Linked DNA regions of Homo sapiens: region 1 is linked to region 2. The links come from fine-mapping of genetic effects on gene expression. A gene starts in region 2. The other region holds a variant in brackets. All regions are shown on one strand. Distances are from middle to middle. Region 1 overlaps THEM4 (thioesterase superfamily member 4). Region 2 holds the start of THEM4 (thioesterase superfamily member 4).

Region 1 (2,919 bases), 23 kb before region 2:
CCATCTCCCAGGTTCAAGCGATTCTTCTGCCTCAGCCCCCCAAATAGCTGGGATTACAGGCACGTGCCACCACACCTGGGTAATTTCTGTATTTTTAGTAAAGTCAGGGTTTTGCCATGTTGACCAGGGTGGTCTTGAACTCCTGACCTCAGGTGATCCACCCGCCTTGGCCTCCCAAAGTGCTGGGATTACAGGCGTGAGCCACTGTGCCCAGCCTCATCTTTTATTTCTTTAAACATCTCATACTTTATTCATTTATATTGTGTATTTGATTATCATCATATCTTAGATCCCTGAGGTCTAAATCTTATTTATTGTTTCTGTTGATAGTCACCCTTGGTAGTTTCTTTCCTTGTGTATTTGGTACAGGATCTACTTGTTTTGAAGGAGGAATGTCCTTTAGCATTTCTTGTTTGCCATGTTGCATGAAGAAATCGAATCAGGAGCTTCTCAACTCATGTGTCATGAATGGGTCATTGGCATGCTGAGATATTTACCCTTTCAGCTGGCTTGTCATCACTAGTTTGACCTGCTTTGTCTATTTATCTTAATGTGCTAGGCACAAGGAAATAAATCAAGTGGGATATTTGGATCAGAGGGCTGGAAATTATTTGAAATCATTAAGGAATAATCTTGCTTCTTAAAGGAAGTAAGGTAGATTAAGGCATCTGATGATTAATTGACACTGCAAATTATTTTCAATTAAAATATAATCCCAGGTTGTTACCTGTAGCATCTTGAAGGACTGTCAAGTAATCATATTAAATTTAATATTATTACTATTATTATGAACCTAAATAACTGTATACAAAAAAACAGAGAGTGATAAATATTAAATTCTAAACTACTTATAAAATCCAATACTTTATTCTGGTCTTTAGTCATCAACTAACAGAAGACAATGGAGGCTGTGTGTTGTAGTGAAGAGCATCAGATTTGGTGTCATAAGATGTGAGTTCTAATTCTGACTAAATTGCTCTCTATCCATATGACTTCAGGTAAAACTTCTTTTCAGTATGTTTTCCAATTGTGGGGAACAAATGAACAGCAATGCAACTGATTTTTGTGGATGGTTTATTGGGTGGGACAAACACTAAGCATAGAGTTTGGCAGGTTCTGTTTCCCATTTTGCATTTGAGTATGTGCTTAAGACACAAACACTTTTTGAGATAAACAGCAATCTAAATACTTTGTTTCAGCTTGTTTTCAAAGTAACCGTTTACATTTATTTTTTTAGGAACGATGTTATACTTCATTATTCAACTTTATTTGAACATGGAAAAATATTTTTAAAAACATGGGACATGGAAAAATATAAAAAATTTAATTTTTAATATATTCTTTAACATGTTAAGAAAACCCAGATTTCTAGAATCTAATTTATAGTTATAACTAATATGAAATATTGACCATCTGTAAATATGTCAACTTTCCCCAAATTAATCTCTAGAATCAATGTAATTGCTATTAAAATTGTTAAAAGGAGG[T/C]ACAATGACAATCTGGGTTTAAAGGTTAAAAATCTAAGGCACAACTAGGAATAGAAAGAAACTCTCTCAACATAATAAAGGCTATTTATGAAAACCCTACAACTAACATCATGCTGAATGGTAAAAGACTAAAACCTTTTCATTTAAGATCAGAAACAAGACAAGGATGCCCACTTTTGCCACTTCTATTCTACATGGTACTAGAAGTCCTAGCCAGAGCAATTAGGCAAGAAAAAGAAATCAAAGGTATTCAAATTGGAAAGGAAGAAGTACAAAGATCTGTTTACAAATGACATGACTTTGTATATAGAAAATCCTAAAGATTCCACAAAAACCTGTTAGAATGAATAAACAAATTCAGCAAAGCTGCAAGATGTAAAATCAACACAGAAAAAGCAGTTGCATTTCTATACACAAACAATGACTAATCCAAAAAGGAAATTAAGAAAACAATTAAGGCCAGGTGCAGTGACTCACATCTGTAATCCCAGCACTTTGGCAGGCCAAGGCAGGCGGATCACTTGAGGCCAGGAGTTTGAGATCAGCCTGGCCAACAAAGTGAAACACTGTCTCTACTGAAAATACAAAAAATTAGCCAGCTGTGGTGGTGCATGCCTGTAATACCAGCTACTTGGCAGGCTGAGGCATGAGAATAGCTTGAACCTGGGAAGTGGATGTTGCAATGAGCTGAGATCATGCCACCACACTCCAGCCTGAGCAATAAAGTGAGACTTTGTCTCAAAATAATAATAATAATAATAAAAAAATTAAAAATAAAAAAATCAAAAAGAATAAAATACATAGGAATAAACTTAACCAAAGAGCAAAAGTCTTATACACTGAAAACTACAAAACATTGATGAAAAAAATTAAAGACACAAATAAATGGAAAGACATCTGTGCCTGTGGACTGAAAAGACTCGGTGTTTTGTGTGTGTGTGTGTGTTTTTGTTGTTGTTGTTTTTTTTACAGTTGGGGTCTTGTTGCCCACCCTGGAGTGCAGTGGCATGATCCTAGCTCACTGTAGCCTTGAACTCCTGGGCTCAAGCAATCCTCTCAAGAAGCTAGGACTACAGACGTGCACTGCTGGGCCCAGCTAAATTTTTAAAAAATTAATTTTGTTATGTAGTAGATGTTGGTGCTCCACCCAGAGCCCCTTGGATCCTTTCTTCACTTGTTTTGGTTATTTTCTCTAGAGTCTGCTTTGCTCAAACACAGAGACCCTTAGAAGTACTTGGAAATTTATGGTCCCTGGGATGGCCCTGATCCTATGACCAATACATGCGAGAGTATAAAGACTCTAGCTCCCTCATCTGAGATGGAGACAATTCTGAGGCATAAATTTCATTCTAGAGCTCTCTTGTATGATCTGGCTAAAGCTATGCTTTGCTGGACTTTTGAGAGTTCAGCCTTGGTTGACACTTCTTCATCT
Region 2 (2,919 bases):
CCATTGCATAGCTTCGTTTAGCCCGGCATGGCCCAGATTCATCCTGGCTTAGGGAATGAGTCCTTTCTGGTTTGGTATCTGTATGCCCTTTCGCTATTTGTCGATTCCCCTGCCCTCCACCAACCACCTTGGATTTTCCTTTCTCTGAGCCTTTAAGTAAAGTTTGAAAGCCAGAAATATTGGCCGCTTGGTGGAGCTAAAGTTAGATAATAAGGGTGTTAAAAGAATTTTCTTAAGGAGTGCTCAGCTTAATTAAAAGTAGATATCTAAGTTGTAATTATATTTATAAGGCCTTTATGTTTTCCTTTTCTTGGACCTTATTTTGCTGGAAAAAGTGTTTCTTTGCGGTCGACTGAGTTATTTTTCTCCATTTTGCCTTGCCACTTTTAATGCCTGCATAAGAGGGGCGATCTCTGTTTTCCTCATGGAACCCCAGGAATTAAAAGCAGATAGATCCCTCTCCCTGTGATGAAAGATCTTATGGCAACTGGGTTTTCTTCTGCCTGTCTGTGTAGTTATATATGTGTTGTGTGTGATGTCTATAAAAAGATCTCTAATTAATTGACCTAAAGGAAGATAAGCGTTTGGATCAAATATTTTTTTAAAGGGAAGATAAAAGCTGTGGTATCTTTTAGTTCACGTCACTTTAATCTTTGAAAAATAAAAACAGCCTCAAATATTATTGGTAAAATACAGATGTTGTCAAAATATAAATAGACAGACTAAATTATGCAGTTCAGGTAGCGCCCTGCCGACCCTGTCTCTTAAAAAACAAAAAAACGGGGTCACCTTTCCATCCCTTTTCTAACGGTTTGAATCTCAGGACTGTATTCCTAGGCCCCTGTTGCTTATGCTGCCCTGTGGTGCCCAGGTGAGCTTTTATTCTGAGATTGGCTGGTTGGGGTATGGATAACAATCGAAGGCTCTGTTACCGCAGGCGTGTTTCTGAGTCCTGCTCCCGCCCCATGCCCGAGGGTGCCCAGACTCACCAGCTCGGGTCGCGGCTCGCTTCCCGGCAGGCGCCGGCCTACTGGCGGCAGGCACAGAGCCCCCAGCGTGCGGAGGCGCGCGGCGCAGCTCCTCAGCATGGCTCCGGGCCGCGGGGCCGCGCTTGCTCTAGCCCTGGACGGCGCACTCTACCTCCGCCACAAGAGCGCGCGTGCGAGTTAACCCCTGGGGTGGACGCAGGGCGGGGCTTGGGGAGGAGGCGGTGCGCACTACTGGCGGCTGGCTGGCCGGGGTGTGAGGCCGGCGGGGTCCGGGTAGGGCATCGCTGTTGAGTCTATCTTCTGGTTCCGGCCTTTTCTTTCCGAAGACCTCCCGCTGCGGCCAACAGCCGGGCCACTTCCGGGGCTTCTCAAAGGCAAGAGGAGCGCGGCCGGAGCGGATCCCGGTTATCGCCTTGGGCCCCTCAGCCCCTCAGCCCCGGAACCCGCGCGCCGACTGGAGGCTTTGCGGTCATCCTTCCCACATGACCCAGGGCGTACGCAGTGCTCCGTGTCCCCAAGTAGTTATCCCTCCCCCGGAAGACTGAAGTCCCTGGGGCGGGTAGGAGCGCACGCTAGGAGTAGTATGAATAAAGTGTTTTCTTGGAGGTCATGGGCAAGTCTCTGGACAGGGTTGATAGTGCTGATTTATAGAGGGCAGTCTGGGCACAAAGAGCATTTATACGATCGAAAAGCTGCTTTCCCTGCCAACAGCCCCATACCCTCCCCAGGAGCGCGCTTACGCCTTAAAAGACTCTTTTGTTATGTAAACTGACAGTTAAATTAAACGAAGGTAATGGATACTAAAGGCGTAACAGGTATTGTAACTATTTTACTGTTATCGATGCTTTTGAGGTTACTTACCTCGCTTGTATTCGTATGGTGGGAATACTAGGCGCATACCTTCTGAGCTTCGAATTCAGTAACCTCACTGGGACCTTGAAATCGGACTGGGTTGGAGTATTCCCATTACTCAGATAATGCAAATCCGGGCCATCATACCCCTTTATTTTTAAATGCTTACCAGTATGCCATAGCCCTAGTCCATCCTAAGGTGAAGACTCTAATGGGTTTTTTTTGAGACAGAGTCTCGCAGAGATACTGCTATTGCACTTCAGCCTGGGCAACATACTGATGCCCCATCTCAAAAAAGCAATAAATTAAAAAGAAAACTCGAATGACCTGAATGCATTAGATATTTTGCCTTGATTCCTTTCCCATGAACAACTCCAGCAGTTTGTCAGTAGGTAAGAACACCTAGATACATTTTAAGCCTACACTATTAACTGGGGGAAGGTGTAACATTCTGAGAGAAAGGGAATTGGGGAGAGAAGGCAATGCAGTTAGGAGGGGCCCCTTGGAATCCTAGAGCTACTGAACCGAAGATCAGGCATAAAGGATGGTTGTTGAGATTCTGTAATTCTAAGAGGTTGTATTCTGATATCTCCTAAGCACCCCCCCCAACCTCCCACATTCCCTTTATCTCAGTTGTCTTCCTTTTTAATATATTAATAGTATTGCAGTTTCCTGGTGGCAGGGATGGGGTCAGATTGCCTTATTAATTGTAACAACGTGCACGTAGTGCTTGAATACTTACTTAGCAGCAAGAATCCAAAGTATCTTTGGTGTCTGTTGTCTTCCCATGTTGTGCGTGCAGATGGAGGCACGAGCATAACGTAAATCTCTAAAATTGAGATGACTACTGTTAATGAATAGAAAAGTTTATTCAGGTAACTTAAAATTGCATCTATTTACAATTTACAGTGTAGTCAAATCAATCAATACCTATAGACTTCAACCCTGCTAAGATTGTCTATATGATTAATGTACCAATAGCTCACCTAACAGCTTCCTTTTGTTTTTTTGAGATGGAGTCTCACTCTGTTGCCCAGGCTGGAAGTGCAGTGGCATGATCTTGGCTCACTGCAACCTC

Evidence for each region.
Region 1: its variant is fine-mapped to the expression of THEM4 in whole blood (TOPMed, PIP above 0.99).

Annotation. Positions count from the first base shown.
Region 1 is chr1:151,885,203-151,888,121 of GRCh38, forward strand. All of the region lies in intron 4 of THEM4 (thioesterase superfamily member 4), which reads right to left. Among named protein-coding and RNA genes, the nearest start is that of THEM4, 23 kb to the right of the region's middle. The variant T/C (reference allele first, on the strand shown) is at 1,488.
Region 2 is chr1:151,908,371-151,911,289 of GRCh38, forward strand. It overlaps THEM4 (thioesterase superfamily member 4), which reads right to left and starts at 1,141. Exons shown (of 6, transcript NM_053055.5): 1 at 990-1,141. The coding sequence starts at 1,088. RefSeq lists a silencer at 868-1,177 and enhancers at 1,418-1,537, 1,526-2,113.